3 separate regions of the Homo sapiens genome follow, and regions 1 and 2 are each reported to be linked to region 3. Evidence: microRNA targets listed by miRTarBase, many of them from high-throughput screens and not tested one by one. Region 3 holds a microRNA gene; each other region holds the end of a gene's coding sequence.

Region 1 (3,255 bases), not on the chromosome of region 3:
TTTGAGGTATCCTCCCCTCAACTGATGGGCTATCAGGAAAGGACAGAATAGTCTCTTGGTTTTAAAACAAATCTTTTGAAGCTCAGCATTAGATCTGGATGTCACTGGGCAAAGGCTAATCTCACTGAGGGCTGCTCATCTTCACTCCCTTCGTTTGTCTTTCCAGGTCTGGAACAGCCGAAAATTCTGTGATCAGTTCTTGGGGCAGGTTACTCTGGATGCTGACCCCAGCGACTGCCGTGATCTGAAGTCTCTGTACCTGCGTAAGAAGGGTGGTCCAACTGCCAAAGTCAAGCAAGGCCACATCAGCTTCAAGGTTATTTCCAGCGATGATCTCACTGAGCTCTAAATCTGCAATCCCAGAGAATCCTGACAAAGCGTGCCACCCTTTTATTTTCCGTCAGGTGCCAGGTCTTAGTTAAGATTCACAATCTTTAGAAAGAATGAGATTCACAATAATTAACTCTTCCTCTCTTCTGATAAATTCCCCATACCTCCCAATCCAAGTAGCATCTGTAGCTACATAACCTATATACCTCCAGCAGCTGGACATGGGGAGGCGACAGTCCTATCTAGACATCATACACATTTGCCAAGAAAGGATCTCTGGGGCTTCCGGGGGTGAGATTCAAGTAGGACAATAACAAGAGGCTGGACACCCTACAGATGTCTTTGATGTTTTCAGTTGTTTGATATATCTCCCCTGTAGGGCATGTTGAGGAAGGAGGAGGGCTGATCAAGGCCAAGCTGGTCTAGCCTGACATCCTAGCTCCTGACTGAACACTATAGACTTCCCAGCAGCATTTCACCCAGCAGCCAGAGCCGGCTTTAAGTCCCCAACCCTTACAGACACCACTGCCACCACCACCAACCACGACCACCACCACCACCACCACTCACCACCATCATCACCTCCGGAAAGTGTAGTCCTGCCCTAACCCAAGTCACCCCCGACAGTAAATTTTACCTTCATGTTGAGAAAGCTTCCTGGTGCTTAATCAAGAGCTGGAGTTCAATGAGTCCTAGACAGTGAGAGGGGCCTGAGCTTCAGCTCAATGGAAGCCTGCTGTGTGCCACAAGACGGAAAAGTGGAAGAAGCTGCAGTGGGAGACAAAGCCTCGGTCCCCCACCCATCCACACACACCTACACTCACACACGCGCACATGGGCGCGCACGAACTACCATTCAGGCAGTCAGTGGGCAAGAGGAAAGATAAGTAAGTACCATACACACCTAAAAGATGAGAGAATTCATCCAGACATATTACAGCCAGTTTGGGGCCCCTGACTGCAATGTGAAACCTCTCGCTGCTGCTAGGTTTACAAACAAGCCCATTGTCCTGTGCCTCCTAATATCATTTGTACTGAAGACCCCATCTGGGGACTTGAGACTTTGGTCCCAGCCCAGACTCCTCAGACTTTTCTCTCAGTTGGGATGCTTCACTCGCTGGGGGTGTTTGTTTGCCCTCTCATTTTTCAGTACTTCTACAGAATTTTCTCTAGAGTCAGTCATTATGAAATGTACTTCCCTCCATCTTAACCTATCAACTTTCTGCCCCTCCTTCAAGGCCCAGTATAAATGCCACCTCCTCCATGAAGCCTTCCCTAATTCCACCCCAAACCCCCACCTTCAACAATATTTCAACGCTTCTGCAATGATGAAAAAGAAACATAGTTGTAGTACTTAGCCTACCTAGACCAGCAAGCATTCATTTTTAGCTCGCTCATTTTTTACCATGTTTTCCAGTCTGTTTAACTTCTGCAGTGCCTTCACTACACTGCCTTACATAAACCAAATCACAATAAAGTTCATATTCAGTACATTGATCAGTCTTGACTTGAATTGATGGCATGGGATGGATGGCAAGAGTGACCATCTGTTAAGACTTGTTTCAAAGCCACTGGAGGTGGGGGTTGAGGTACTTCATGAAATCTGAGCTCAGGTAAAAGTGTGATGGATTCAAAAGCCCTGGCTACACTCTGATGGTACAGTTCTTTGCATTCTGGGGTAGTTGGAAGAATGAAGAGGGGCCTTTATTTCATATTTAGGGACAGCTAGGTGCTATTCGGGGTTACTTGAGTTTGAAACTCCTATTTGGGATTGGACTCGAGGCCATAGGTACAGTAGCCAAATCTTTCAAGGGAAGATCTCTCAACAAGACAAAATACCAACTCCCCTTTCCCAGCATCTTCCTTAGAGCCGAAGGGATGTGTGAAGACTTCACTCATTTGCTTATACAACCTGCCATCTACCATCTTAGGGTAGGCAAAGGGGAAAATTCTTATTTTTCTTTCTGACATGAAAAAGTGCCTAACCAGGGGAGGGATCTCCAAAGGAGTAGCTCAGGAGAACAGTTCTCAAGTACAGCCCTCACTGTCTGTCCCTATAACACTAACCCAGAACACACTAGAGATTTACATGTTGTAGATTTTTGTTAGACATGAAATATCCCATGTGGATAATGCAGTCATTCCATATGGTCACCAGATGGCACTATGGTATTACAATTAAGCTCAAAGATGCTACTGCTTTTTTTTCCCCCCAAGGATGACAATTTTTCCCCAGACAAAAAAGGGTAGAATGCCCTCTTTCACCACTCATATTCAACATAGTATTGGAAGTTCTGGCCGGGACAATCAGGCAAGAGAAAGAAATAAAGGGTATTCAAACAGGAAGAGAGGATGTCAAATTGTCTCTGTTTGCAGATGACATGATTGTATATTTAGAAAACCCCATAGTCTCAGCTTAAAATCTCCTTAAGCTGATAAGCAACTTCAGCAAAGTCTCAGGATACAAAATCAGTGTGCAAAAATCACAAAGCACTCCTATACACCAATAACAGACAAGCAAAGAGCCAAATAATAAGTGAACTCCCATTCACAATTGCTACAAAGAGAATAAAATACCCAGGAATATAACTTACAAGAGACGTGAAGGACCTCTTTAAGGAGAACTACAAACCACTGCTCAAGGAAATAAGAGAGGACACAAACAAATGCAAAATAAAGCCATGCTCATGGATAGGAAGAATCAATATTGTGAAAATGGCCATACCGCCTGAAGTAATTTATAGACTGAATGCTATTCCCATCAAGCTACCATGAACTTTCTTCACATAATTAGAAAAAAAACACTTCAAATTTCATATGGAACCAAAAAAGAGCCCACATAGCCAAGACAATCCTAAGCAAAAAGAACAAACCTGGAGGCATCATGCTACCTGACTTCAAACTATACTACAATGCTACAGCAAC
Region 2 (3,255 bases), not on the chromosome of region 3:
GACTTGGGGGTGGCCTCAGGGGGTTCCTGGACACTGGTGAGGGAAGTGGGGAGGGTACCTTGAGGAAGAGTTTTGAGGAGATTGGAGGGTGGGGAGGGCAGGGGGCCGAGGGGCCGTGGGCTCTGCAGGGCTGACGTGGTACAGATGAGGAGGGGATCCCCGCAGCGTGATCTGCACTTGGGGTAGGGCCCTCTGAGGGCTGGTGGTTGTTCCATGGGGCAGTCGGGAGGGGCCAGCACATGAGGTGGGCTGGCCAGGCTGAGGTGCAGGGCCGAGGGCTTGGGTGAGGGGCATCTCCAGGAGGGTCCGGGCGTCGGGGTGGGGGTGGGGGCTGCAGTGGGCATGGAGGAACAGAGGGAGAGACTTAATTGGGGAGGGGGGACTGGACTGCTGAGGGACCCGCGGGCCGAGTTGCGCTTCATGTCTGAGGCCCAGGACTGAGTGGGCTGAGAGGCCCAAGAGTCAGCGCCTTTGGGTGGGTCTGGGAGGGGCTGCCATGCACAGTGAGCGCTCCCTGTGTGGGGCCTGGAGATGTGCCAGACACCCCGGTGAAGGTCCTGGGCCTGCCAGCTGAGTCCCCAAGACCCTGGCCAGTGCCGCTGGGTTCCCGGGGCTCCCCGAGCTAACCCCAGGCCTGTGGGCTCTGTTTTCTGGAGCAGGCGCCTGGTCAGGGACACCTCCTCAGCCCAAGTCCTCATTTTATGCATTTGGTGTTTTTCAGATTTTGCAAGAACGAGGCTCAAGGATGTGAGGGACACAGTATTGACAGCTGAAGAAATGATTTACGTTTTCCCGAGATGTAATGAACTGCCATGTCCAGGAAGCTTGGCTGTGAGAAGAAACCTGCTTTTGATCATTTTTCTAGAGATCTGGGTGTGAATCCTTTTTTGCCTCTGAGGTGGGTGGTGAGAGACGGGCCCAGCTGTCCAAGGCCAGACGTCCCCAAGTTGGGGGAGCACGGCGGCCGGGTGGGCGCTGCCTCTTGGGGGGGCCTCGCTCTGTTTTTTCCAAGTGCCACGTGGGACTGAGGCAGACACTCCCAGTCAGCCCGCTCGATCCTGAAGATCGTGTGAAGGAAGCGTTCTTGGTGCTACACACAGTCTGGAAAAGCAGCCTGGGCTTCACTGGCAGGAAGCGGCCGCAGCCGCGTCAGTGTCCAGCACGTCGTGGCCTCTGGTCCGACCACCAGGCCCTAGTCTCGGTCAGGGAGTCTGCTCTGCCTCCCAGGCGGGATCGCTGGTTTCTCTCGACCTCGCAGAGCTCCTGACAAAGGCGGCTTCTGCGTCGTCACTGCTTCCCGGCGCCATTCCGAGGCCGGGCCTTCTTCTGACACGGGCTCCAACCCCACCTGACCAAGCCCGGGACAGTCAAGGCTTCTCAATTTGTATTTTCCAGGCAAGAGAACTTTGTACCCCTTCTCTGTGTGGATAGACTCCCCAGCGTTTTTCCTCTGGAAATGCCCACAGGGCTTGCCGCGTGGAGACTGATCTGTTCCATCCGTTAGCGCGAGGTAGCAGTGTCGCCTCGCCCCTCCCACTGCGGGCTCACGGGGAGCTGGCGTCTGTCAGTGCCTTGTCACGCCTGGCATAGAGGTTGGGCTGGAGGCCTGTCCACTGGCTTCTGGAGCTGAAGGTCTGCGTCACGGTGAAAATTCGGGATGTTTACAGAGCATCACAAATGCCTCTCTCTCGCCGCTCTCTCATTTTCTTTGTATAACTATGCAGCCTTCCCTCTCTTTCTGGGATGTTTGGGACTTCACTCGACCTGCACGGGCTCTGCCCGACATGCCGTGGGAGCTGCTGGGATTCCTTTAGAAACCGCTGCCCGCATGCTTTGAAAACAGACCTTTCTCAGCTGGCTGTGGGGACCTGTCAGAGTCTGGGGACTCGGCGTGCAGGGCGGGCTCCAAGCGCTTTGCTTCCGGAACTCCGGCTTCCCAAGGGGTACTGTGCAGACTGACCACCGGCCTCCCGCCTGCAGGTCAGAGGCTCTGACACTGTCTGGTTTCCAATGCTTCTGGAGACTTCCTGCCTAGGCCTCATCCTCCTCTTTGCCAGTCACCTGATTAACCAATTCTCCAGCATTAGGACTTACCTCCTTCTTTTTGTAAGGTCTCTTGTATGTTGTTAAATGTTTGGCTTAAACAATTTATAAAAGCCTTTCTAGAAGGCAGACTTAGCCCCAGCAGAGCCTGGGAGGAAGGCGGCCGCTGGGGCTCCTGGGCATCCTCTCTGGGGAGCTGCTGGCCGCTTAGCGTTGTTTGATTTTTGACCTTGACATAGTAGATAGGCTTGTGGTTTTTTTAATTTAAAGATATTAAGACTTAATTCACTAAAATTTATTCTAAGGGGATATTTATACTTTTATACTTTTTTAGGTATCGTATTTTATCAGCTTACAGTTTAATGCCTAAGTTTCCCCTGGAAATAGCAAATAAAATTGTGTATTTATGAATGCGCGTAGTAGCTGTTTATGGTCTTAAGATGCAGGGGAATGCCACCCCGGGTCGCTCGGACCAAGGTGCTGCCCCTCCAAGCCGCCCAGCCCCACTGGCCGCGGCGGCTCACTCAGGGCTCTGCCTCTGCCTCTCAGTCGATGGCCAGGGCGGAGCTGGGCCATCCACGGGGTGCCGGCTTGGCCAGGGTCACTGGATCAGAGCTGCACGGCCCATCCCTGCACCCCACTCTGCCTGGACCCCTCACCTACCTCCAGCAGATAGCATACCCCCATCCCGGGAGACCGGAGACCATGTACAAGGGCCTTTTTTTTTCCTTAAGAGACAGGGGTCTTGCTATGTTGCCCAGGCTGGTCTTGAACTGCTGGGCTCAAGTGATCCTCCTGCCTCAGCCTCCTGAGCAGTTGGGATTACAGGCGTGAGCCATTGCGCGCGGCTCAAGTGATGTTTTTTTGAAAGTCCTGATACCTCAAGTTAGCATCCACCTCTCTTCCCTCACTTTAGCCTGCAGCCTGGGTTGTGACAGCAGGAGCTTCCCGAGAAGGTCCTGGGGTCCCGGCACCCCCTCGCCAGCTGCTGTGACTCCTCCTGGTGGCTGCTCCACGAAGCCTTGGCTGTTGGACTCCCCGCCCCCCCGCAGGGAGATTCCCATTCACGGTGTCCCCCAGGGCCTGGCTGTCTGAGGTCACAGAGCCTCAGGCTGTAGTGGCCTTGTCCATCCTGTTTCCAGGTGTGTGGCTGGCCCAGCCTGACCCCAGGGCCCTGGTGAGGGGTGGAGTGGGTGACTGGGCTTCTGGGTG
Region 3 (3,255 bases):
GGTCGAGTTCGGGCCAAAGCAGAACTCCTGGGCTGAAAGCTGGTGCCAAGCTCTGTCCAGCAAGGGGGAGTGGAGCAATCTTACTGCTCCCAGACACCATAACTATGACTTCTACTGGGGCTAAGGTGATGATGCGCTGCCATATTGGTATTGGTCTGCTCTGGGGCCCAAAGATTGTAGAGGTCCCCTTCGACTGGAGAGTTGCTCCTGCAAAGTGCTGGGTAGCTCTCTGCCTCAGGCTAGAAGGATGGTGGGGAGATGTAGGGTGGGGGCAGAAGTCTCCCATTCCCAGTCTTGCTCAGGTCACTGTGAAGATCATGAATCCCCCCAGGGGTCTCACTCATTCACCCTTTCCCATGTTGGAGAGATTTTCCTGGCTCTGTGCTGAGCTCAGACAGGCTAGTGTCCAGTTTCACTCTTCTCTGCTCTCCATGGTCCCTTGCTGCCTTGTGGATCCTAATGTGGTTTCTCAGATGGTCGACCCACAGCGTCAGTGTTCACTAACCCTTTTGTTTCCTCTCCACGAGGGCAGTGCACATGACGTGCTTATAATCCAACATTTTGGCCTAAACTGCTCAGGATATTCATTTTGTTTTTGTGTCTGCTAACACAACGTCTATTCTGCAGTCCACAGATCAAGGAGTATTTTTCAACTTTCAAGCCTTGTTATTTAGTAACTACATTGCATAAGGCTATAGCTTATAGAGATAGTGATTTCTCTCATGGATCTGGGCAAAGTAGGTTGAAAAATCTTCTGCAAAGGTTTCACCATTCTATATGAAATTAGGAACATTTGTAATTTATGGGAGGAGGTCAAATTATCATAGTTACCAGGAGTTTGGAAGAAGGGGAGTCCAACACTCATAGATAACTTTGAGATATTCAATACTTCAGTGGAGAAAATAACTGAAGATGTGGTAGAAATGGCAAAAGAATTAGAATAAGAGGGCCCTGAGGATGTGACTGAACTGCTGCAATCTCATGATGAAACTTTAAGGGATGAGAAGTTGTTTCTTACGGATGAGCAAAGAAAGTGGTTTCTTAAAATGGAATCTACTCTTTGTGAAGATGCTGTGAACATTGTTGAAATGACAACAAAGAATTTAGAATATTACACAAACTTAGCTGATAAAGCAGCAACAGGGTTTGAGAGGGCTGACTCCCGTTTAGAAAGAAGTTCTACTCTGGGTCAAATGCTGTCAAATAGCATTGTGTGCTACAGAGAAATATTTTGCAAAAGTGTCCATTGATGTGGCAAGCTTCACTGTTATTTTACTTTAAGAAATTGCTACAGCCACATCAACCTTCAGCAACCACCACCATGATCAGTCAGCAGCCATCAACACTGAGGCAAGATTGTCCATCAGCAAAAAGATTGCTACTTACTGAAGGCTCATATGGTCATTAGAGATTTATAGCAACACAGTATTTTTAACTAAGCTATGTGCATTTTTAGACATGATGCTATTGCACAATTAATAAGACTGCAGTATATAAACTAACCTGTATATGCACTGGGAAACTGACAAAAAATTGTGTGACTTCCTTTTTACTGTGATATTCCCTTGTTTTGTGTTGGTCTAAAACCAAGCCTGAAATATCTTCAAGGTATGCTTGTTTATCAAAGTCACCTACCTATCTGCTTGAAATAGAGAAGATATTTCAATTGAAACAACATATTAAAGCCCAAGTGCATCCCTAAATCTCAGAAGAAAACTACAGCCTGTTTGTAAATTGGGTAGCCTATTTTTCTCCTGCAGTAATAAATCCGTGTCTCTGTCATGGTTTCTATAATAAGGTTTCAACCTGAACTCCTTTTTGAAGAATTGTCACCTAGGAAACAAATTTTAAATTATTTGCAAATGGAAAATCTACCAAAAAGGACTTACAATTTTGAATTTCATACATCTTCAAATTCATAATCTCAAAAGAGTATTCTTTCACTGACATGGCAAAAATTAATTGGATGAAGTGATACTTAAGTTTTTCATTTTTCTGAAAAATGCTCACAGAAAGCACTAATAAAAGAGTGTTTTAAATTAACTAATTTTCTTCAAAATTTTCTCATTACTTGTATCAATTCCAATGTCATTTGAAGATGGAATTTTTACAGCCCAATTGGCAAAATTAGCAACATTTTAGGAATATGGCAAGATTATCGTGTCTTTTGACATGTAATATAATGGCCATTATTTCTTTAGGAAAGAATTTAGCAAAAGTTAAACAAAGCATAAGAACACAATTCTTTCCAAAATCAAGCAGCATAATTCTAAAAGGAAGTAAGGGGAAAAACAATAAAAAAAATTATTGAGATTGCATGTCACTTAGAAAATATATAGGAAATTAATATTGAACTAGAAACTAATGTGTACTAATGTCTATTTATGCAATATATACTTCATATGCTTATATAAAATCACTTAGGTCCTACTATTACTAGTTTGTGAAAGTTGATAACGTTTTCCCTGATGATTTTGTCAACCGGTATTTTTCTTCACTCTACTGGATGACTGTCTTAAGTTATTCATCACTTAGCATTTTTCAAAAGTATTAAATAACAATGATATTAATACTAATAGTACCATTCAAAAAGGTCATGATTATCTCTGCTCTTTTTTACTTTTTTTAAAATGGGTATCATCTACAACAGTGGAAGGCCATATCCAGGCATGCATTCTAGAACAGATTCCATTTGTGAGGACACAAGTAAACTGCAAGACCAATCTAGATATTATTTTTAACAGTAAAATGATTAATTGACAATTATTGCAATCACACTACAGAATAAACCACATTCAGTTTAGGAAATAACTAACTTTAATATGTCTATGTTAAACAGATTATAAAACAATACACCAATTGAGTTAAAAAAAAAAACCTTTTTTTCTCTGCTAAGGAGTTGATAAAACCCATAGCCATGAGTGACTAAGCAATTGTTTCTGTTCTGGGTCTATGCACTTTCTTGTTATTGTCTTTCTTTTGTTCATGTGTTTGTTCTCTGTTTGTCTTCAGTTCTAATGATTGTCCCTGTGTCAGGCTATGATTGTCCCTGTGTCAGGCTCATACAGCTTGGTCTCCTATAATTTCTTCTGTTGGTAAAATAAAGTACATATTTTCATCAAATACTTCTTTTTAACCTTTAACTATTTCTATTTCTATTTCTATTTCTATTTGCTGTTTGCACAATCTGTGTGAATGCTGGAAGTGTAGCTCTTTTCCAAATCCTTAAAAGTTCTGGGAATGTCTGCCTCTGAA

The links. The annotated mature microRNA hsa-miR-1255b-5p reads CGGAUGAGCAAAGAAAGUGGUU and lies in region 3 at 1,018-1,039, shown strand. An mRNA with a match to its seed (bases 2 to 7 or 8) in the 3' UTR can be bound and repressed. Matches are read on the target gene's strand: a 7mer-m8 pairs with bases 2 to 8, a 7mer-A1 pairs with bases 2 to 7 and ends in A, and an 8mer does both.
Region 1: the mRNA of CAPN6 is a reported target of hsa-miR-1255b-5p. Seed matches in the 3' UTR shown: 7mer-A1 at 1,252-1,258.
Region 2: the mRNA of KCTD5 is a reported target of hsa-miR-1255b-5p. Seed matches in the 3' UTR shown: 7mer-m8 at 2,038-2,044.

The regions. Positions count from the first base shown.
Region 1 is chrX:111,243,671-111,246,925 of GRCh38, reverse strand. CAPN6 (calpain 6) reads left to right here. Exons shown (of 13, transcript NM_014289.4): 13 at 167-1,827. The coding sequence ends at 349. Among named protein-coding and RNA genes, the nearest start is that of CAPN6, 25 kb to the left of the region's middle. RefSeq lists an enhancer at 1-686.
Region 2 is chr16:2,706,577-2,709,831 of GRCh38, forward strand. KCTD5 (potassium channel tetramerization domain containing 5) reads left to right here. Exons shown (of 6, transcript NM_018992.4): 6 at 722-2,454. The coding sequence ends at 751. Among named protein-coding and RNA genes, the nearest start is that of PRSS27, 12 kb to the right of the region's middle.
Region 3 is chr4:36,424,189-36,427,443 of GRCh38, reverse strand. MIR1255B1 (microRNA 1255b-1) reads left to right here and starts at 1,016; the gene lies at 1,016-1,078.